Linked DNA regions of Homo sapiens: regions 2, 3, 4, 5, 6 and 7 are each reported to be linked to region 1. The links are microRNA targets in miRTarBase. Many come from high-throughput screens and were not tested one by one. Region 1 holds a microRNA gene; each other region holds the end of a gene's coding sequence.
The links. The annotated mature microRNA hsa-miR-6855-5p reads UUGGGGUUUGGGGUGCAGACAUUGC and lies in region 1 at 2,245-2,269, opposite strand. An mRNA with a match to its seed (bases 2 to 7 or 8) in the 3' UTR can be bound and repressed. Matches are read on the target gene's strand: a 7mer-m8 pairs with bases 2 to 8, a 7mer-A1 pairs with bases 2 to 7 and ends in A, and an 8mer does both.

Region 1 (3,096 bases):
CAGCCGTGGTGGCATGTGCCTGTAATCCCAGCTACTCGGGAGGCTGAGGCAGGAGAATCGCTTAAACCCAGGAGGTGGAGGTTGCAATAAGCCGAGATCATGCCATTGCACTCCAGCCTGGGCGTCAAGAGAGAGACTCCGTCTCAAAAACAAAACAAAACAAAACAAAAAAAACGCACAATGAGATACCACCTCATACCCATGAGGTTGACTCCCATCAAAAAAGTAAACAAAATGAGTGTGGACGACGATGTGGAGAAACTGGAACTCTTGTGCGTCACTGGTGGGAATGTGAAATGGGGTGGCCACTGTGGAACCCAGTACGGTGGCTCCTCGAGAAATTAAAAATAGGCATAGACCCAAAGGGATGAAAGAAGAGAGGTGTGCACACCCATGGTCAGAGCAGCATTCCTCACAATAGCTAACAGGGAAGCGGCCTGAGTGTCCACTGACGGATGAACGAATAAGCAGAAAGGCCCCAGCCATCCACACAATGGAACAATAAATAACCAGCATACAAAAGGCAGGGCATTCCGACACACACGCTGCAACGTGGATGAACCCTAAGGACGTTATGCTCAGTAAAAGCCGTCAGTCACAAAATGGCAAGTACTGTATAATTCCACTTCTATGAGGCCTTTAGAGTAGTCACATTCACAGACTTGAATGTGGAGGTTGCCAGGGGCTGGGAGGTGGGAGTAGGGAGCTGTTTCACGGATACTGAGTTTCAGGTTTGCAAGATGTAAAAGTTCTGGAGATGAATGGGGAGGATGGCTGCGTGACCATGTGCATGTATTTAACACTACTCGACTGTGCACTTTCTGTTAAAAACAGCATTTACAATGGTTATGGTGGTAAATTTTACATTTTGTGTATTTTATCGCAATTGAAAATTGGAAATAAAAAAAAAAGAGAGAGTTTTCCCAAAGGTTTAGATGCCAAATAGCCAACGGAGAAAAAGAACAAGAACAGGAATGGGCAATGTTTAAATAAATACATAGAGCCAGTATATTTAACAAAAAATGTAGAAACTCATCAGTAATCAAGGAAATGAAAAATTAACATACATCATTTTTGCCCACCAAATTGGTAAAAATAAAAATAAGTGAACACTCAAGAGCTGCAAGATGATGGGGTTGGGATAGCACATGGCCCTGGTCCAGCGTGGCTGGCAGTGGGCGTGGGTATCTGATGGGATCAACCTTGGAAGCCAAGTCTAGCCTGGCTGTGCATCCCACAAGCCCTGGGCTGCATGCTGGCCTGCTGGGGTCTGCACATCCCCGTCCCCACAACCCTCCACCTCCCCGACCCTTGCCAGCCAGGCCCCTCACCCTTTAACTCATCAGCGGCAAAGAAGGCAGCAAGGCAGTCTTCCAGGGTGACGACAGGCCCCCAAAACCAGCTGGGGGTACAGGATACCACAAACCTACAGACAGAAAAGGAGTGCAGGGGTGCTGCCAGGGCCTGGGCAAGAACAGGAGCTGAAGGGACTCTGGCTGAGGTCTGTCAGGCCTGAGCCGCAGAAGGACCCTGAAGGCCCAGAGAAGCAGCCGGGCACGGCGGGTCGGGGCAGAGGCCTGGAGCCAGACACGTCCGTGTCCTGGGCCGAGTGACATCATCTCTCCGCAAGCCTGGCCTCCTTCATCTGTGTTGCGGCCATGATCATGCTACCCCCTCCCTGGGGTCATGCGGGTCTCTGGCCTCAGGCAGGAGAGGCAGCCCTGGGAAAGCTGCTGCCCTTCCCGCCAACCAGGCCTGTGTCCTGCTGCTGCCCTCCCTTCAACCTGCCATGTGGTCACCTCCCTGCTGTCCATCGCCCTCCAGCTCCAAGGGACTATCCAATCCTGGCCACTTCAAAGTAGCCAAGAAATCCCCTGCATATTAAGCCAACTCCTCTGCAGGCTTCGGCCCCCAGCTCCTCCCAGGACCTCCCTGGTTCCCCAAATGCATGGACTTCACTGTGTACTGTCTCCCGCCCAGGAAAACCAGGACAGGCCCAGCCCATGTCGCCCAGTAGTGGCAAGGTGGGCGCACCGTCGGATGTACTCCACAATGAAGGCCAGCCAGCCCTGGGCGGCATAGCTGTCCCCACAGGCGCCTGGCTTGGCCGGCACATTCTGGTAGATGGCTGAATGGAGCTTGGCCAGGTCCTCCTTTCCAGGAATGGGCAGTGATAAGTCCTGGAACGTTTCCACTGTGGTGGATACCTGTGGGGTTGAAGGTCAGTCTGCTGCCCATCCTCTGGCAATGTCTGCACCCCAAACCCCAAGCAGCAGGTGAGGGGCAGAGGGACTACTCCCCAGGCCATAGACACGGGATCCACGCAGGCAGGGCCCTCCCCTGGATAAAAGCAGGGAGCACCCGTGGAGAGCCCACCCTGCACCCAGTCAGGGCAAGAGCTGCTGAGGCCACTGGCAGCCTGGCCCAGCTCCCCCCATCCCTGGGGCACCCACCCGGTCACAGGTGAGACACTGCACAAGGCTGAGAATGGAGCCGTCAAAGATGTCTGAGATGACGCTGCGGTAGCGCTGCTCCTTCCGCCTCCGGCTGCCAGCACTCAATACCTGGGCTGGGGACACAGCACAGGACTAGCCCAGCCTCCACCTGCCTGGCCGGGGCGAGGTGCGGGCCCTGCGGCTTCCTTTGACAGGATGTGGAGTGACATCCGTGAGTCACATGACTGGGTAAGCAATTCACCATCTCATGCCTCTGTGTCATCCTCTGCAAAACGTGGCTCCCACACTGGTGTCTCAGGGGTGTACCTGAGAGGAGCCCATAGCCCGGCCCTCCGCCACAGGGGGCCATGAGAAAGGCAGCTACGGGCGTAATCTGTACTCCCAGCCTCAAGCTGACCCACCCTCCCGTGCCCCCCGAACCTTTCTTGAGCACGTACGACGGTGCCATCCTCACGGGGCTTGCACGAGGGGGGCTGCTAGACAGCTTGGCATGGCCCTCGTGGTGGTGGACGGGGCTGCAGGGGCGAGAGGAGCTGCGTAGGTGAGCATCATTGTCCGGCTCTGGGGGCAGAGAGGGTACCATGCTGGGCCAGGGCAGCCAGGCCAGCTCCACGAGTGGGCAGGAAGATGACCTGCCAGC
Region 2 (3,000 bases), not on the chromosome of region 1:
TATGCCATTTTATACAAGGGACTTGAGCATCCTCAGATTTTACCATCAGTGGAGGATCCTGGAACCAATTCCCCATGGATACCAAGGGATGACCATATACTGTTCATCTAGTCCCTGTCTGCTTTCAGTTCATTATTCCAGCAATAAGGCTTTGTAGATGGTGGTGTGGACTTCCTATTGCATTACGTCAGGAAGTGTGTTGTCTGATAGACCCATTTTTATTAAGGTTAAAACAGATCAAAGGGTTCAGAGGTGGCCAGTTTGATAGATCCACCATAAAAATCTCGCTATAAAATATTTCACCTATTAGTTGTAGTACCCATTGAAGATCATGTTTTCTGGACCCATTATTCCATTAAGGTCTAGAAAATGGTGATTTTTCTAATCCTCTAATTCCTTCTAGATTTATTAGACTTCTTCAAAAAAGAAAAACCCATTCAAAAAACAAATTTTTTTTTTGAGACAGGGTCTCACTCTGTCACCCAGGCTGGAGTGCAGTGGCACGATCTCAGCTCACTGCAAACTCTGCCTCTTGGGTTCAAGTGATCCTCCCACCTCAGCCTGGGACTACAGGTGTGTGCCACCATGCCTGGCTAAATTTTGTATTTTTAGTACAGACAGGGTTTCACCATGTTAACCAGGTTGGTCTCAAACTCCTGGCCTCAAGTGATCCACCCACCTTGTCCTCCCAAAGTGCTGGGATTACAGGTGTGACCCCTGTGCCAGGCCAAATTCATTTGAATTTGATGAACTTCTGGTGACCCTGAAATTTGGTTCACATGGGAAAAGGAAACTAAATGACAATTTTTCCTCTGATTTATTGATTTCAAGAATAATGAGTTGGGCTGGGTGTGGTGGCTCATACCTGTAACCCCAGCACCTTTGGAGGCCAAGGAGGGAGGATCACTTGAGCCCAGAAGTTCAAGACCAGCCTGGGCAACATAGTGAGACCCTTTCTCTAAAAAAAAAAAAAAAATTTAGGTGGAAGAATCACTTGAGCCCAGGAGGAACAGGGTACAGTGAACTGTGCTTGTACCACTGCACTCCAGCCTGGGGGACAAAGTGACACCCTGTCTCAAAAAAATTATACATTGGTGCTCTAGCATCTTTCATAGGTTACCAAATTATGCAGCCACAATCAAGTAAACTATCAAATTATTGGTGGGATCACATCAAAAACTCAACTTGAAACAACTCCTACTGGTTGAAGATATGGCATTTTGAGCATCCAAAAGTATACTGACTTATAGAATGATGTTTTGTTTCTTTCCCACAGGAGTTTTATACACACACATAAATATACACAACAATATTAAATTCCTAGGTGGTTAATTTCTTTTAAGCCACATTTTTGATAGTTTCTAATTAATTTTAAACTGTGGTCAGACAACAGGGATTGTAAGCCTTTTGCTTTCTGGAATTATGGGAAAATCATTTCCTATTTCCCTCTAATTCTTCAACAGCTGTATTACTAGTGACCTCACATTCATGAAATTCATTTTTGGCATGAAATTTCTAATGCAGCTCAAGTGCTGAAGAACTTCCTACATTCACTACAATCTAAATTTTACCTAGAATAAATTATGTTTAATAATTTCTGAGAGGTGACAGGAGGCATTTCTACATTTATTATGTCTACAGATCTTCCTTTTACGTGAATTCACTAATACTAATGACAATAATAACAATTACAGATAATATTTACAGAATACATGCTATATGACTGTGATTCCTCCAAGTATTAACTACTTACTCCTTGCAACAATCCTATTCCACAGTGTGGCAGGCTGACTCTAAACAGGCCCCCCAGTGGTCCTGTCTCCAGGACTTATTCACACTCTTGTATCATCCCGTTCTCTTGAGTGTGGACTATCCTAGTAACTTACTTCTACCAGTAGAAGGTGAGGGAATGTTACTTCCATGATTAGATTACACAAGATGGTAACTTCCATCTTGCTAGCAGACTGTCCTCCCTTTTGGCTTGCATGCCTTGATGAAGCAAGCAGCCATGTTGATGAGGCTATTGTGGCCAGGAGCTGCAGTCAGCGTTCAGCCAACAGCCAGCTAGAAACTGAGAATCTCAATGCAACAGGCCTCACGGAAATACATTGGGTAACAACTATGTTAGTCTGGATGTGGATCCTTCCCCAGTTGAGCCTTCAGATGAGACCTCAGCCCTGGCTGAAATCTGTAGCCTTGCAAGAGACCCTGAAGCAGAGGACCCAACTAAGTCATGCCTATACTCCTGATCCAAATTATAAGATATAATTATATGTTATTTTATGCTACTAAGTCTGTGGTAATTTATTACGCAGCAATAAATAACTAATACATATAAGTACTATTATTACCATTTTACAAGTCAGCAAAATGAGGCACAGAAGCTTAGTATCTTGTCCAATAAATCAAACTGGTAATCAAGTGGAGAAAGGGAGATAATGACAGATAAGGCTAAAGATTTTCCTACATTCATTACATTATTCTCTCATAGGAATTTGCTGAAGATAAACCATGTTTAAATGGTGTTGGAAGGCTTTTAAATCAACATATTCTTTCTCTAATATAAAATTTATTATGCTTGGAATTGAGCATGAAACACATTTTCTCAAAAATGAATTTTCTGATGTTCTGTAACATCATATACATTTGAAGGCTTTCTTCTATTAAATTCCATTATGAATCTTCTGATGCTGAGTAAGGTGTGAATGCTGTCTAAAGGCCTTCTTACACTCCTTACACTTGTAGGGCTTCTCACCAGTATGAATTCTCTGGTGTTGAGTAAGAAATGAATAAAGTCTAAAAGCCTTACCACATTCCTTACATTCATAAGGTTTCTCACCAGTGTGAATACTCTGATGTTGGGTAAGTTGTGAGAGCAGTCTAAAAGGTTTTCTACATTCCTTACATTCATAAGGTTTCTCACCAGTGTGAATACTTTGATGCTGAGTAAGTTGTGAGAGCAGTCTAAAGGCCTTTCCACACTCTTCACATTCATAGGGT
Region 3 (3,096 bases), not on the chromosome of region 1:
TGCTTCAAATTACAGGGAATCCCTGTTACTGGGGAGTGATGGACCGTTATGAAGCAGAAGCCCTTCTCGAAGGGAAACCTGAAGGCACGTTTTTGCTCAGGGACTCTGCGCAAGAGGACTACCTCTTCTCTGTGAGCTTCCGCCGCTACAACAGATCCCTGCATGCCCGAATTGAGCAGTGGAATCACAACTTTAGTTTCGACGCCCATGACCCGTGTGTATTTCACTCCTCCACTGTAACGGGACTTTTAGAACATTATAAAGATCCCAGTTCGTGCATGTTTTTTGAACCATTGCTTACTATATCACTAAATAGGACTTTCCCTTTTAGCCTGCAGTATATCTGTCGCGCGGTAATCTGCAGGTGCACTACGTATGATGGAATTGATGGGCTCCCTCTACCCTCAATGTTACAGGATTTTTTAAAAGAGTATCATTATAAACAAAAAGTTAGAGTTCGCTGGTTGGAACGAGAACCAGTCAAGGCAAAGTAAACTCTCCGGTCCCCAAAGGTTGTTAACTAGGTCCGCTTTCATGTGCATCAGACAGTACACCTATAGCAAGCACACGTAGCAGTGTTAGGCTTTTTCATACAGTATGTAAGCTTAGTGTTAGTATCTGTCAGATGCTACCTGCTGTTACTTATTCAGATAAACATGGTGCCTATTGGAACAATAGCGGATAGAGCTACAGGTGTTCAGTAAGACTACAAAAACATTTTGCCTATTTCGCTAACAGTTTGGTTTTTAATGGCTGTGGTATTTGAGTGAGGCAACTCTGGGGCATTTGTTATGAAGAATTCTATTTCTTACTGAAGAACAAATTATTAATATTGGATGAGTATTTCAACAGTGTGACTAATGTTTGAAATTATTTTTTCTAAGAGTTTTTCTATAACCTTCCAAAAGTCGTGATGTTTGTAGTTACTATAAATCAAGCTTTGGAAGTCCAAAAAGAATAAAAGACTGCCTTCCTTTTAGAAAAAAATGCAATTTTCTGGCCACAAGGGCATAGTGCAGTTCACTTACGTGTTGATGTAGTTTATAATCAGACGCCTTTTCTCTTCTGCAAAAGGTACTGTTAAGTAAACCAGATTTTCTAAATAGGCATTCTTAAAATTTCAGACTTACAAAGCTAGTAGTAGAATTTTATTGAAAGGCCTAGGTATTAATTTTTTAAATGAGTGCTTTAACTTAAAACAGGCGTTTGGAATAGCTGCTGCAATGTAGTCTTGTGTGTGATTTTTTTTTAAGTTGATGTGCAGTCTAATTGTTGTTTCATAAAAGTTGGATCTGTTCCTATGCCCAGGATGATTTTGTGAACCGTGAAGTACGTGAGACTAGAAGACGCCCAAACAAGTCAGATAATAGTAACTACAATGGTTGCTGATGTTGAGATTATTGTTGAACTATAATTAATAATTTGGATGGCAGAATTTATCTCTTTTTTGTAAACTCTCATAACTGAATTGCTTAAGTATAATTTATAGAATTTCAGTGCAGTTCATTCTTAATGGAAAATCTGAAACCTAAATTGCAGATTTAAAAGGTACTGTACAACCATTATATCTGTAAATAACTTAGCACCTTTTTGTCACTTAGAATAATATGTACTACTACTTGAGTGAGCGCTTTTGGAAGTTATATCAAGTTCTAGTGTTTGCTTCTTAGTAACTGAACTGAATTTACAGTTCTGTCCTAGACATTTTGCACTAAAGTAGCCGAATCCACTCTCATGTCTTTTCGTTAATGTGCTCTGTACCACTGGTGAGTGCTCCATAGTTTCCTTACCTGCTGCTACAGAATGTTATTTTACATCCCTATGGCTATTGCCAAGGCTACAAAAAAGGAAAGCTATATTTGTATGCAACACTAACCTTTTGACTGCTAATGTATGTTTCTGCTTGCTGTGCCTTGTTATGGCTGCTTTTTTTGTGCTAATAAAGTATGTTTGGTGTTCTCCTTGTATATCTGCTGTTTTATACATTTGCAACAATTTCTCTTGTAAATGGAATGGTTTGGGGTTTTTAAATAAGCATTAACTAACAACCTTTCTATAGTTAATGCAGAGTTAATGAACAGTCTAATATTGACTTATCAGAATAAGCTAACTCTAAATTTAATGCTCTACATCTTATCAGTCATAATTATATATACTGTGGAACAGTATCTGTAGTTACTGCAAATTACTGTACAGTTTAGGTTATAACAGAAAACTGACAGAGAAGTAATAAACCTATTGATTTCTCTGCTTATAAATGAAAGATTGAAACTATCCAATGACATATTATAGTAAATGAGTATCTGTAACCTCCCACTGCATCAGAAGCAGGTTAAATGAAGTCTTGTGAATTTGTAATAGATCAGTACCATTTATTGGTTTGGGGACCATCTTAATTAAAAATAAATGCCCAAAATGTAGAACTTTAACCAAAGACTTGTCCCTTTTAAAGCAAAATGGGGATTGAAGGGACTTATAATTTCTGTTGTTTCTAATTAAAGTCCCTGAAGATCATATACCAAAGTGTTTGAGAACTTCATCCAAACCTACTTTAAAGCATTATGTGCAATTAAGTTGTTATGACATAATTATATTGCCTAATTGTTGGGTCTTTTTTCTTGAGCTTATAATGTACCTGGAAAATAAACCTCTTGAGAAAAAGAAAAGTTCATACTGATTATTGGAAAAGGACTATATATGTGAGCAAGATTGTGTTTTAGAGAGGAAACTTGAAACTCCAAGAAAGCACTTGATGTTTTTATATGCTTGTAGCAAATTGATGTTCTAACTGTAGTTTTATAGAAAGTATTAATGCTTTTATGTATTTCAAAACTTTCATATGTTAAATGGAAATTGTTTTAAATGTGTTTGAGTTTATGTAAGCATGTATACACTGTGCTAAAAGTCACATGTTTCAGTTTGTGTATAATATTAATATGCAATTTTTGGTTTAAATTTTTGTCTTAAAATATTAGTGGCTTACATTTTAAAAAAGAAAAATCACCAGCATGAACTTGCACCTAAGTCTATATTCACTGTGTCCTTTTCTGAATCCCATTGTAGCCTGTCAACTAAATTTGAGTGTTAACGGTCTTT
Region 4 (3,096 bases), not on the chromosome of region 1:
CCAGGCAGTTTGCCAGAGCCATTTCCCCATTCAATAGCCAAAGACCCGTTGCTACGAGGCATCTTGTCCCTTTGAGTTGCCCCCTGGTCAGCCTATTCCTCCTTGTATAGACAGTGACTCTTTCTTGACCCAGCCCCCTTTCCTGCCCTTCTCTCCACCCAACTCCACCCCTGCCAGGACCCCTTCCCCAGACTGTAGCCCAGTTCCCAAACAGCTTCCCTTCCCAAGCCAGGCCCCCTTCCTCTCCTTCTCCAGCCTGCCCCAGCTGGGCCACCTTCTCCTACCAGGAACCCTTCACCAGTCCATGCCCCAGCCTCCAGCCTGGACCCTTTGCAGGCATCCTCCCTCAGCCAGGACTTCTTTCCTAGCCTGTGCCCCCGCTACCCAGCTGGGCCTCTTTGTCCATGAAGGTCCCCTACCCTAGCCAGGCCTCTTCTTTTAGCTTGTCACCCCCTTCCCTGACCCTATGCAGCCCACTGAAGTAGAGCACCTTTCCCATTTCTAGAGCCCTTCAGCAGTCTTTGCCCCTGTCCCCAGTCAGCAACCACCACCCCGCCACCCGCAACAGGCCTATGCTCCCTAACCCTCCAGGATTCCTTTGCTTAAGTAGATCCTGGGATATAAACTCTATATGAAGTTAGCTACACAAAAACAGAGAAGCAGGTATTTTTTAAATGGTTTTTATTTTTGAACAAACTACATGTTTAAAAACTTTCAAAAACATATATATTTTATCTTAGAGCATTTGGAATGTAGAAAGAATTTCCAAAATTAATCTCACTGAATTACAGAAAGTAAAGATTAAAATTTTCATAAGTTGTTGACTGTAAATCATTTCATTTTATATTCTTTTGGAAAATTCAAGGATATTAACAAGTCTCAAATAACAAAAGTATATTGTTCACTTTTGATGTAACAAAATAGAATAAAACTTTAATATTTTAAAGAATCTTTTTAGATATTTCTGTATCTCTAAGAAATAAGGAAAGTTGTTACATTCATATCTTTCACACTTCATACCAGATGATATAACAAGGTCAATCAAGTACTTGAATAAATTCATACACCTTTATATCTCTAAGAATAAAGGAAACTTACTCGATTCAGATCTTCACCCCTTAGAGTAAGTAAATTACCTATCAATGTGTCTCTTTTTTCTTTATACCAGTTGTAAAGATAATGAAACGTATCAACTATTTGAATAAAGTCCTATCTCTTCCTACCTTTAGTAAAGGAAATTAAGTTCAGATCTTTCACATCTTAGAGTAAACCTTATCTAGCCTATCAGTTTATCTAAATTTACTTTATCTATTTAACAGATTTACCTTACATGTTTTAACAAATGCTGTTATTTAGAATTAGCAAACATGGGAGAAACTAAAATTAATTAGGAACCACACAAGTTTTGATGAAAAGAAAACAAAACAAAGTACTAGCGGATCTCTTGTTCATAACTTGAGACATCTCCTGAGTAGTCTAGCTTAAGTAAATAGCAAACCATGGCAATCTTTCCCCCCAAAACTCAGCAAAAGGCCTTCACAAGGCATTTTGATCACATAAACTCCAATTTTGTCTAAGTAATCCAAGACATTCATAGGAAAACCTGAAGACTCCCCGAGCTAGTCTACTAGATTTATTTTTCCCAGAACACATGAAACTTAACATTTCCTTTTTTTCTTTTTTTTTTTTTGGAGACGGAGTCTCGCTGTCTTCCATGCTGGAGTGCAGTAGTACGATCCCGGCCCACTGCAGCCTCCGCCTCCCGGGTTCAGTTGATTCTCCTGCCTCAGCACCCCAAGTAGCTAGGATTACAGGCCCCCGCCAACCTGCCTGGCTAATTTTTCATTTTTTTGAGACGGAGTCTCACTGTCTTCCACGCTGGAGTGCAAAGGCACGATCTCGGCTCACTGCAACCTCCGCTTCCCGTCAAGCGATTCTCCTGCCTTAGCCTCCCGAGTATCTGGGACTACAGGTGCCTGCCACCACGCCCGGCTAATTTTTGTATTTTTTGTAGAGGTGGGGTTTCACCATGTTGGCCAGGCTGGTCTCGAACTCCTGACCTCGTGATCCGCCCGCCTCGGCCTCCCAAAGTGCTGGGATTACAGGCGTGAGCCACCGCGCCCGGCCAATATTTCCATTTTTGTGGTGAAGTTATACGCAACATGACCAAATCTTAGTTGGTGAGGGAGGTAAAAGACCCTTAAGGGCAAGAAGAGGTTAGAACTTTCAAATTTATGCCCCTCTGGTGGTGCAATGCAGAGATTTCCCTCATATTTCCGGGGAATTTCCCTCGAATTTCGTTTCCCACCCTGTGAAAGCAGCAAGGTTAGGAAAGCGGGGGCGGGGCGGGGGCGGGTAGTTTTGATTAAAAGGAAGGAAAAGAAAAACAGAGAAAAGCAAAAGGGGAAAATAAACTGAGCCTACTGAGGAGATGCGGCGACGGCGACAGTTTCCCGGGGCTGCTCAGCGCCTTGGGGCCTACAGGAGACGCGGGAGCACGCCCCCGGCGGCGCCGGCCTCGAGCGGTGTCACGGAGTTGTAGTGCTCGCCGAGGCTGTAGGCATAGCGCAGGTAGACCAGGATGATCGGCTTCTTGACGTACTCCTCCCCGATGATCAAGGTGGGCGAGTCGGCCTGGATCACCTCGATGGGGGTCTTCAGGACGTGCGACAGGGCCCTCAGCTCCAGCTGGCCTCCCCATGCCGTGGTGCGCACGATGTTGTCGCAGTAGATCATGAAGTCGTCGTAGCCGAAGGAGTCGCTGGTCTCGGGGTTGCTGAAGAAGGGCAGGAACTCGTCGACGTGCTTCTTCATGTAGCTGGCGGTGCGGCAGCGCAGCATCTCCACAGACACGCTGAACACCAGCTGGTCTTGGATGGCGCGGTACATGCAGTGGCCGTCGGCCGGGATCGCTTTCATCTCCAGACCCCTGGCTCCCAGGATGGCGGCGAGCTTCTCCTCCTCCTCGCGCTTGAAGCCGGCCAGGTGCTCCGACATCTCAGCCTGGAAGATGCTCTCCTGGCGCTCCCTCTCCTCGGACTCCATTCTTTCTCTCTTTCTGTGGGCTTTGGAGGAGCGGGGAGGCCGGTTTTCCAG
Region 5 (3,096 bases), not on the chromosome of region 1:
GCGGGGAATCAGACCTGGCTAGATGGCCCTAGAAAGTCCCTTACGTTGCCCATGGCAGACAGAGGAAGTTCGCTCTGGGCAAGGCACCAGGCCCTGGAGAGCTGTGGGTGCACACTCGGGTGAAGGGAGGGCACGCAGGTTATGTGGTGTAGTCTCTCCCTCTGTGCCTTCTGTGGCTTTTCTAGCAGAGACAAGTTGCACCCTCACTTGTGAGTGAATGAAGCCCTCCTGGTGTGCTGTCCTCACGTGTCCGCGGTGCCTCTCTCCTCTAGGTGTGTACTGGGGAACACTACTATTCTTGCTGAGTTTGCCAGTGAAGAGGAGATCAGTCGTTTCTTTGCACAAAGCCAGTCTCTGACCCCTTCTCCCGGCTGGCAGTCTCTCGGGTCCAGCCAGAGCCGGCTGGGCTCCCTCGACTGTTCCCACTCATTCTCCAGCCGGACCGATCTCAATCACTGGAATGGTGCTGGGCTGTCGGGAACTAACTGTGGAGACCTTCACGGCACTTCACTCTGGGGGACCCCGCATTATTCCACAAGCCTGTGGGGTCCCCCAAGCAGCAGCGACCCCCGAGGAATTAGCAGCCCATCTCCCATTAACGCTTTTCTTTCTGTTGACCACCTGGGTGGGGGTGGAGAGTCCATGTAACAGTGTAGATGCAGACTCACCGACCGGGACCTCAGACGCGAGGGAAAGGAGCACTAAGTGGGGCTCGCCGCCTGCAGCCAGGGGCCGCCTGTGGGAACAGCTATTCTCTGCACATTTTCCACTTTGTTTTCCCCAAAACATATCAGTTTGAATACTTGAATCATGCAGGCCAATATTATAATGTGAAAAGGTATCTACTCTATTTACACTCCCAAATAGCGCCATACATGCTAAACCGTAGAGAATGAGCTCGCTTGTGTCTATTCATCATGTTTAGCCTTTGGATTCTTTTTTTTTTTTTCCTTCTATTCCTCCCCAACCCCCCCCCCCGCCCCTTTTTTTCTCTCTTGCAAAACCATTTTTTGGGCTGATAACGTATGAGCTTTTCCCTTTGCACTGAATGATGTTCTCTCCGTCTCATCGGCAGTATGGGGGGCAGCTGTCCCAGTGTCAATGTTTACTCAAGGGTGTTCTTAGGAGGCGTGCGCTCTCTACTATGCCTTGATGTTGCCTACCTTATTGTGGTATCGTGGAGTTTAAAAGATCAAGTTAGGATGCTGACTTAGGATTATTAATGAAAGTGTTGCACCAGTTTTTTCATGTTGTAAAACTAAAGAATTTCGCTCTGCAGTTTGAAAAACTGTGGCCACAGCTGTGACTTGCAGCCCACCTGCCACCCAGGACGGGCCCTGCACTTTGAATAGGCTTTCCATTTTGTTTTGGAGGTTCTCACTTTGAACCTTCTTGTTTACAGATTTTTTTGTTTGTTTTTTGAGAAAAAAAAATGTTTACTCTTCCATCATTTAAAAAAAATGTAAAAGACAAAAAAAAAATGGAGGATGATTTAAAAGATGCTTTCTATCTCTGGGAAAAAGGAGCAGCATTTGGCCATGTTCTTTTGTTTTTCTATTCCTGTCCCAAATCAAAGAGCATGGTTCTCAGGAAAACCAGTTCCCCAGTTTAAAAAAAAAAAAAAAAATTCCTTGTAGTTTCTTAGAGGAAAAAAAGAAAAACCCCAACTTTTAGCACTGATACTACATATTGCTCTGTTAAAGAATTTTCTCTGCCAAAAAAAAAGAAAAAACAAAAAAACGCTTAAAGCTGGAGTTTGACATTCTGCTTTCAGATGCTGTCTTTTTATTAGTGAGTGATGATGGTTTGCTAATAATCAATAGGTAATAATTTTTTGTAATCCCATCAAGTGGCTCCATATGTTTCTGCTCTCTCGTGACTGTGTTAATGTTTAACTGTTGTACCTTAAAGCCGAAATCAGTAACTATGCATACTGTAACCAAGGTATTGGGCTTACAGAGTTGTTTGTTGTATAAAGAAAATTTTAAATGTTGTTGCAAACTAACGAGTTACACCATTTTAAACTTTCTTTCCTCCCCCCTTTTTTTGCCCACAAATGGTATTATAATGCTTGCTTAGTCAAAGAAGAGAGACTAAACAAGGGTAAAAATTTTAACAGTACAGAATTTGCCATCATATCATTGCCTTGATTCTAACTGTTTGTGTCCTAAGATGCAAAAGAAGTCAGTGGCTTTTAACTGTTTACAAATAGAATGTGATTGTAAAATGTACAGTTTGGTTGTGTTTGAATTATGAAATTTCTTCAGATATAATAAACCATGACTTTTTGGCTGCTCAACATTAATTGTCTCCTTTTTGTGAATTTATTTGTAGGCTCTTTTTTATAATGAAAGTTTCAAAGTTGCTATGTATGAGGGTTCTCATAGAGCAACCGATTAAAAATCTAAGCAAATATTTGAACATTTTATCTGAACTCATCACAATTTCACCCTGAAATAATGTGAGAACAATGGGAAACTGTAGCTTGCTCCTTCCCACCCTCTCTGAGCATCTTTGGGATCTTGTTGCTCAAAACTCTTCTGTGACTTCATCTTCCCCACCATTTGTGCCCATCTCAAGCCTCAGCAAGAAACCATGTGGAACATGAAGCTTAATGACTTGACAGTGTACTAGTGTTAAACTCTCATACCTCTGTTACAAAGCGAGAAACGCCACACCCGGACTGGCCTTTTCTTCCCCCTTCACGGCCCTCGCTTCTCCCTGCAGGAGCTCGGGGGCGAAACCTGTGTATGGATTTCAGTGTATGACTTCAGATCATGCTCCAACTTGCCAGGTGTGAGCTAATGTTGTCGGACACCTTACTATAAGCAAATGTTATTCAGTGCGTTCAATGTATATTGACTTCCATACTGGTTTTTCCAAAAACCAAAGGTAGCTTTGAAAAACCATGTCTGGAAATGTTTGGAGCGTTAAGCTGATTGACCTTCTGACCTTGGGGCTTTGAGTAGTATATAATTCATAACTGCGTTAATTGTATTGTTAAAGTGTTTGGGAGTTTTTTGCGCTTGTTATGTGGAAATAAAGTGTTTGATTTAAAATTTTTTAAAGTGGTTTGGATCTTTGCCTAGTCCTTAA
Region 6 (3,096 bases), not on the chromosome of region 1:
TGTTGCTGGGTAGCAAGACATCCCCCAAGTTGTATGTTTTCTCCTGCTATGTTGGTCCTATGAACCTAGGACCTCAGGATCTCAGAGCTGCTGAGATACTCTGCCTTGTGGTTTGGTAACTCTTCCATAGCCAACCACTGGAAAATGGGTGTAGTGACTGTAGATTTTCCAAACTAACAATATAAAGAGTTTTTGAGCTTTTGTAGCCGGTGCTTTTTTCCTAACGTGTACACATGCATATTTTTTAACTTTTAGAGAACTGCCAGACAAGCTAAGGAAAGAAGCCAGGTGAGAAGACAATCTCTAGCATCAAAGCATGGATCAGACATCACACGATTTTTGGTAAAGAAGTAAAGTAGAAAAATATATGAATGAATGACAAATGGTTTACATGTGGAAGACTTTAATACAGAAGTTTTCCATGTTTGTTTAATATATCGAGAGTAAAAATTTTCAGAACAAAAATCAAGAATTCAAATTCTCTTCTACTAATTACTTTTAGTATTAAATACATTTTGAAAGTACTTAACAGAAACTAAGATACAATACTGAATATTTCTGTGGTCTTTTTGATTTGATTCAGACTCGCAATTATGTTTCAGCAATGTTTTGTAAAGCTCTTTACCCCTAATATGCCTAATCACTGTATTGTGCATAGATTGTGTTTAAAAAATGTACTCTCAATTACCTAAAAATGCTTCTGGATTAGTATTGTTCTGGACTGTCATAGGTATGAGTGGAACATTGCAAAACCTTATGGGAAATTTCAGACGCAAATCATTATTTGGGAATTCTGGGCCAAGCATGACCAGCCTGCTTAGGATTCAAGAGAGACTGTCCACTAAATACCTCCAGAATGAGCTAGGGGCACACATTTTGGGTGTTGCTTTTCTTGCTTTATTTCTTAGCTAGTCATCTTTATCAAAAATATCCTTTTCAAAATGAGGTACCTATGGTGTTTGTGGACAATTTGGGGGTTCTGTGTAAAGTAATTGTTAAAACTATTAAATAACTGAAAACATAAAATGTAAAATGCCACTTAAGCTTGATTTTTTAGATCTTTTTTTAAAAAATGAATAAAACTAGGCTTACTGTTGGCTGGGCGCGGTGGCTCACGCATGTAATCCCAGCACTTTGGGAGGCCAAAGCGGGTGGATCATGAGGTCAGGAGATAGATCGAGACCATCCTGGCTAATACGGTGAAACCCCATCTCTACTAAAAATACAAAAAATTAGCCGGGCATGGTGTTGTGCACGTGTAATCTCAGATACTCGGGAGGCTGAGGCAGGAGAATTGCTTGAACCCGGGAAGCAGAGGTTGCAGTGAGCCGAGATCACGCCATTGAACTCCAGCCTGGGCGACAGAGCGAGACTCCGTCTCAAACAAACAAACAAACAAAAAAAAAAACTAAGCGTACTATCAAAATACACTTTGTCTTCTGGTTCTCATTTTCTGTTTTTAAAACCCTGTGTTATTAAAGGTATGTTTCTGGTACTTATTTTAAAAAGAGTGATGATGACAAAACACTTTATAATAAGGCATAATCAGATGGTTATATGCATTTAAATATACAATAATAACATTAAAATGTAATTGACATAAAATAAGAGTGACGATGAAACAAACCCAGGGCCTAGTCCTGCAATATGTCAGAATCATGAGGGCAAAGAGTCAGAACTATACAAAATACAGGACCGAGGAAGAATTACATTCCCAAAAGGGAGCTGTTTGTAAATACTATTAGGACATATACCTCTTTAGTTTGAGCATTTTCCCACGTTAATTAATAGCTAGTGTTTTACAACATAAAGGACTTGTTTTTAGAAAGATTATACAATCAAAGATTATACAACCACAGTTGTTCCTCAGTTTCTATTTCATTGTATGAGATCAAGTCATGTTGGTTATTTTATAAATGAAGTTGGGCTTTCTTTGGCCTCCTTTCTGCTTAGTTGGTCAGGTGCTCTTTGCAGTTTTCTGCCTCATTTCCAAGGTAACCTAGGATTTGTCACGGTTGAGAGCCAAGAAGCAGGCACGCTGCCTTTCCTCCAGCATGGGGTTTTGCAAGCGAGGTCTAAGTAGGTCAAATTTGAGGGGAACTTGCTCTTCAGATCACACTAAGGTGATAATTCTAAGGAGAAAGTTCTCAGATGTAAGAACTGTGTGATGGTTTGAGGTGAAACAATCCATGAAGATAGGCTCAGTCTATACCAGGTTTCAGAATTCTGACTAATTAAAAATGCCGTAAGGAGCATTGAGCATTTGCTGTACAGGACACTGACTGGCCCGTCCCCATCCCTTCCTGACATGTCTCAGAGCTTTGTGTCCTGCCTTCCCCTAATTTGGTCTGCATTACTTGTGGGGCACATTGAGATGAAGGGTTCTGAGACAGAAAATAAAGATAGAGATTGATCTAATAACCGAGACCGAAAGGGCATCTTGAGGACTGTTCTTTCCTCCTCACAATCTGAAACAGAAGCTCCCCACTATGTATTGCAAATGGGAGGTTATGACAGAGGGACACAGAAAGTGTCAGAGCAAGTGGCAGATCCTGAGTGCAGAAGGAAGTGCAGATGCCCCAGGAAGAAGACAGCTGCTGCCACTCAGGAGATGGAGATGGAGTGAAAACACAGGTGGGTACAATGAGTGTAAAAGGATAGGCCTGGCTCTGAAAAGACTCAGAGAAGCTGCAAGATACAGTTTAGGCTAAGAAAACAACAACAAAAAAGGGCTCTGGCCAGGTATGATGGCACTTGCTTGTAGTCCTAGCTACACAGGAGGCTGAGGTAGGAGGGTCACTTAAGCCCAGGGGTTCATGACCAGCCTGGGTAACACAGCAAGGCCCCATCTCAAAAAAGAAAAAAGGCTCTGGGTCCAGGGAACAGAGCTGGGAAGTGGTAGGTGACGAAGGAACTCGCTTACGATAGGGAACCATATGAAAATATGCCTGTGGGTAGGGGTAGGGTGGGGAGGACTTCCGGAGCATGGTGGGCTCACACACTCAAACCTTGCACAGCCAGCATCAGGCTGGCCTGCCTTCCTGTTCCCGTCACTGGGTGACATTGATCCCAGACACATTCTGATGACTAGTAAAG
Region 7 (3,096 bases), not on the chromosome of region 1:
CTCCTGCCCACTAAATTCCAGTAGCATTCTCCAGTTGATATGACCACACAAAACACCCTCTTTTAAGAACAATTGTTATTTAAAATTTAGAATCTTTAAATTAGGAGACCAGTCTTGCTTTTCATATAGTAGATAGTATAAGCAAAATTTCCAGTTGTTTTCATTATCAGTAATTGGTAATTAAATGACCAATAATAGAAGTTTTAGCTGAATTCTCTTCAGTTATTTGATTTGCTATATTTAATGATAAAGGGTTAAGTGGATCATATATGTTTTTATATAATCTGAAATGAGAATGCTATTAATTCTAATTAGAGTCAAGGATGCCACCTTAGATATCAACTGAAATAAAATATCCCTGGAAGATTTATCTTAAAACTGGATATTTTACTATTTTAAATTTTAGGGGGAAATGAGTGTCCTTGCATTTAATTCTAATTTTAGTGATGTTAATTATTCTCTTTTTTTTTTTTCTTTCAGAACTGGTCCCTAGGAAAGACCTTCTTGTAGAAAATGTGCCATATTGTGATGCACCAACTCAGAAGCAATGAGTTTTCTAGAATACAACAAGTCTTTGTACTTTTTAACTTTAAAATCTACAACTCTGGCAAAAGTCCTGGAAATGCAGACATTTTCCCTGAACTGGCATATTGAAAATGAATGAATTACAGAATAGCTTCATATTTAAATTTCATGTTAAAAGGTCATTACTGAGAACTAAAGAACATAATTAAGTATTTCTAAAGGAAATTAGATAAGAAAACATTTCATTTTCATTGAAAATCAAATTTCATAAAGCAAAGTAAATGCTTAGGGAGATATATTCAATCTTTGACCTTGATGAGTATTTGATCTTACCATAGCTATTTGAGAATGTGGTGCTTTTACAAATTGGTGAGTTTTCCTGCCATGTGAAATGCAATTATTACATTTAAATTGTTAGATTAAAATGATATTTAGTCCTGAAAAATATTAAATTGGTCAAAAAAATCACAGTGTATGCCAGCTCTCTACAGAAAGTGGCCTTTGTTTTCTAAAGCACTGGGATTATTTCTGTAGCTAATATATAATTGTACAGTTTCTTTTTAGAGATAGAGAGTATCTCTGTGTTCTTATGAAGACATTTTTTATCAGTTTTCTGAAAATAGATGAATAAAATATTATAGTCACCTAGGGTCACTATGGAATAAAGAAATCCTAGTTTAAAGAGGAAATAGTGGCCCTTGATCAAACTATTTAATATGGCCTTAGTAGAATTAGCTGTATTTAGACAAAGTTAGACTTTAGTGTGAAATGTAATCGGTGGCTACATTCTCATCGTTTTAATTAATGAAACTTAAATGGCTTCTCTTCTTCCACATGTCCTGTCCTTGACAAGATGGGCAGTATCACAAAAGGTCCTGGCATTCTACCATCTAACACTAGGAACTGTAAAATACTGTTTAATATTCTTCTTGTTTCTCTTTTATCTGTGTATCTTTGCCATTCTATTTTCTCAGTGAATAGTATGTTTTCTCCCATTCACTGATAAATTCTCTCATTTGATGATGATACAGGGTTTTTAATTTTTGCAAGATTCTCAATGCAAGCATTGTTATGTATCTAGAAATTATACCTAGAGAAAAATGAAAGTCGTTTCAAATTTGAAATTTGCCCTTTTAAGAGAATGCTGAATGTCATCGCAGTATATAATCACTATATAAATGTGCTGACTTACAGTTATTTTAGTGTCTATATGACATATTTTGAGGAAAGTTGGCTGACGTTATTTAAATTTAATATATATTCTATATTTTAGTGTTATTGAATATTTTATCACTGAGCTTTTTTCTTTAACCTGAATTCCCTGTTCCATTTTTCATTCATATTAATTTAAATAACTCCAGATTTCTTTCTTATAGTCATTATTAGTAGCAGATGAGATTAATAATTCACATGTTTATTAAAGATAGTGGCTTAGAAATTTTAAGATATATTGATATAGGCCCGGGCGCTGTGGCTCACACCTGTAATCCCGCACTTTGGGAGGCTGAGGCGGGCAGATCACAAGGTCAGGAGTTCGAGACCAGCCTGGCCAATGTGGTGAAACCCCATCTCTACTAAAAACACAAAAATTAGCCAGGTATGGTGGCGGGCGCCTGTAGTCCCAGCTACTCGGGAGGCTGAGGCAGGAAAATCACTTGAACCCGGGAGGTGGAGGTTGCAGTGAACTGAGATTGTGCCACTGCACTCCAGCCTGGGGGACAGAGTGAGACTCTGTCTCAAAAAAAAAAAAGAAAAAAAAAGGAAAAAGGAAAAAAAAAAGATATATTGATACAGATAGGTAGATATGATATTGTACTTTCATGCCATAAGACTACACAATAAAGTTCCTGAAAGTTCCTGGCTGGGCGCAGTGGCTCACGCCTGTAATCCCAGCACTTTGGGAGGCCGAGGCAGGCAGATCACCTGAGGTCAGGAGTTCTAGACCAGCCTGACCAACATGGGGAAACCCTGTCTCTACTAAAAAAAATACAGAATTAGCCAGGTGTGGTGGCACATGTCTGTAATCCCAGCTACTCGGGAGACTGAGGCAGGAGAATTGCTTGAACCCAGGAGACGGAGGTTGCAGTGAGCCGAGATCGCACCATTGCACTCCAGCCTAGGCAACAAGAGTGAAACTCCGTCTCAAAAATAAATAAATAAATAAAGTTCCTGTGAAGTATATAAACATGTCAACAACAGGCTTGACTGTCACAAAATTCTGAAAGATGTCGCACTCTATTCTTATATAGCATATGCTAATTTATTTATTTATTTTTTGAGATTGAGTTCTGCTGTGTCACCCAGGTTGGAGTGCAGTGGCATGGTCATGGTCCACTAAAGCCTTGACCCCTGGGGCTCAGCAGTTATGCCAACTAAGCCTCCCAAATAGCTGAGACTAGAGGTATGCGCCACCACACCTAGCTATTTTTTTTATTTTTAGTAAGGACAAGGTCTCATTATGTTGGCCAGGCTGGTCTCAAATTCCTGAGCTCAGTTGATCCTCCCACCTCAGCCTCCCAAAGTGCTGGGATTACAGGTGTAAGCCACTGCACCCTGCCTATTCTTATAATC

Region 2: miRTarBase lists ZFP14 as a target of hsa-miR-6855-5p. The part of its 3' UTR that is shown has no 7-base or 8-base seed match.
Region 3: the mRNA of SOCS5 is a reported target of hsa-miR-6855-5p. The part of its 3' UTR that is shown has no 7-base or 8-base seed match.
Region 4: the mRNA of OTUD6A is a reported target of hsa-miR-6855-5p. Seed matches in the 3' UTR shown: 7mer-m8 at 2,018-2,024.
Region 5: the mRNA of TNRC6A is a reported target of hsa-miR-6855-5p. Seed matches in the 3' UTR shown: 8mer at 1,660-1,667.
Region 6: miRTarBase lists ZRANB3 as a target of hsa-miR-6855-5p. Seed matches in the 3' UTR shown: 7mer-m8 at 1,204-1,210.
Region 7: miRTarBase lists LYRM7 as a target of hsa-miR-6855-5p. Seed matches in the 3' UTR shown: 7mer-m8 at 2,087-2,093.

Annotation. Positions count from the first base shown.
Region 1 is chr9:129,868,783-129,871,878 of GRCh38, reverse strand. It overlaps MIR6855 (microRNA 6855), which reads right to left and starts at 2,274; the gene lies at 2,208-2,274. USP20 (ubiquitin specific peptidase 20) reads right to left here. Exons shown (of 26, transcript NM_001110303.4): 12 at 2,877-3,017; 13 at 2,454-2,569; 14 at 2,035-2,207; 15 at 1,332-1,426. RefSeq lists an enhancer at 1,160-1,659.
Region 2 is chr19:36,337,561-36,340,560 of GRCh38, forward strand. It overlaps ZFP14 (ZFP14 zinc finger protein), which reads right to left. Exons shown (of 5, transcript NM_020917.3): 5 at 1-3,000. The coding sequence ends at 2,664. Among named protein-coding and RNA genes, the nearest start is that of LINC00665, 7.3 kb to the left of the region's middle.
Region 3 is chr2:46,759,648-46,762,743 of GRCh38, forward strand. SOCS5 (suppressor of cytokine signaling 5) reads left to right here. Exons shown (of 2, transcript NM_144949.3): 2 at 1-3,096. The coding sequence ends at 494. Among named protein-coding and RNA genes, the nearest start is that of LINC01118, 55 kb to the right of the region's middle.
Region 4 is chrX:70,062,774-70,065,869 of GRCh38, reverse strand. OTUD6A (OTU deubiquitinase 6A) reads right to left here. Exons shown (of 1, transcript NM_207320.3): 1 at 1,691-3,096. The coding sequence ends at 2,479. Among named protein-coding and RNA genes, the nearest start is that of OTUD6A, 1.9 kb to the right of the region's middle.
Region 5 is chr16:24,823,160-24,826,255 of GRCh38, forward strand. It overlaps TNRC6A (trinucleotide repeat containing adaptor 6A), which reads left to right. Exons shown (of 25, transcript NM_014494.4): 25 at 273-3,059. The coding sequence ends at 648. Among named protein-coding and RNA genes, the nearest start is that of SLC5A11, 21 kb to the right of the region's middle. RefSeq lists an enhancer at 1-153.
Region 6 is chr2:135,197,600-135,200,695 of GRCh38, reverse strand. ZRANB3 (zinc finger RANBP2-type containing 3) reads left to right here. Exons shown (of 21, transcript NM_032143.4): 21 at 256-3,096. The coding sequence ends at 354. Among named protein-coding and RNA genes, the nearest start is that of SNORA40B, 63 kb to the right of the region's middle.
Region 7 is chr5:131,199,051-131,202,146 of GRCh38, forward strand. It overlaps LYRM7 (LYR motif containing 7), which reads left to right. Exons shown (of 5, transcript NM_181705.4): 5 at 481-3,096. The coding sequence ends at 551. Among named protein-coding and RNA genes, the nearest start is that of LYRM7, 30 kb to the left of the region's middle.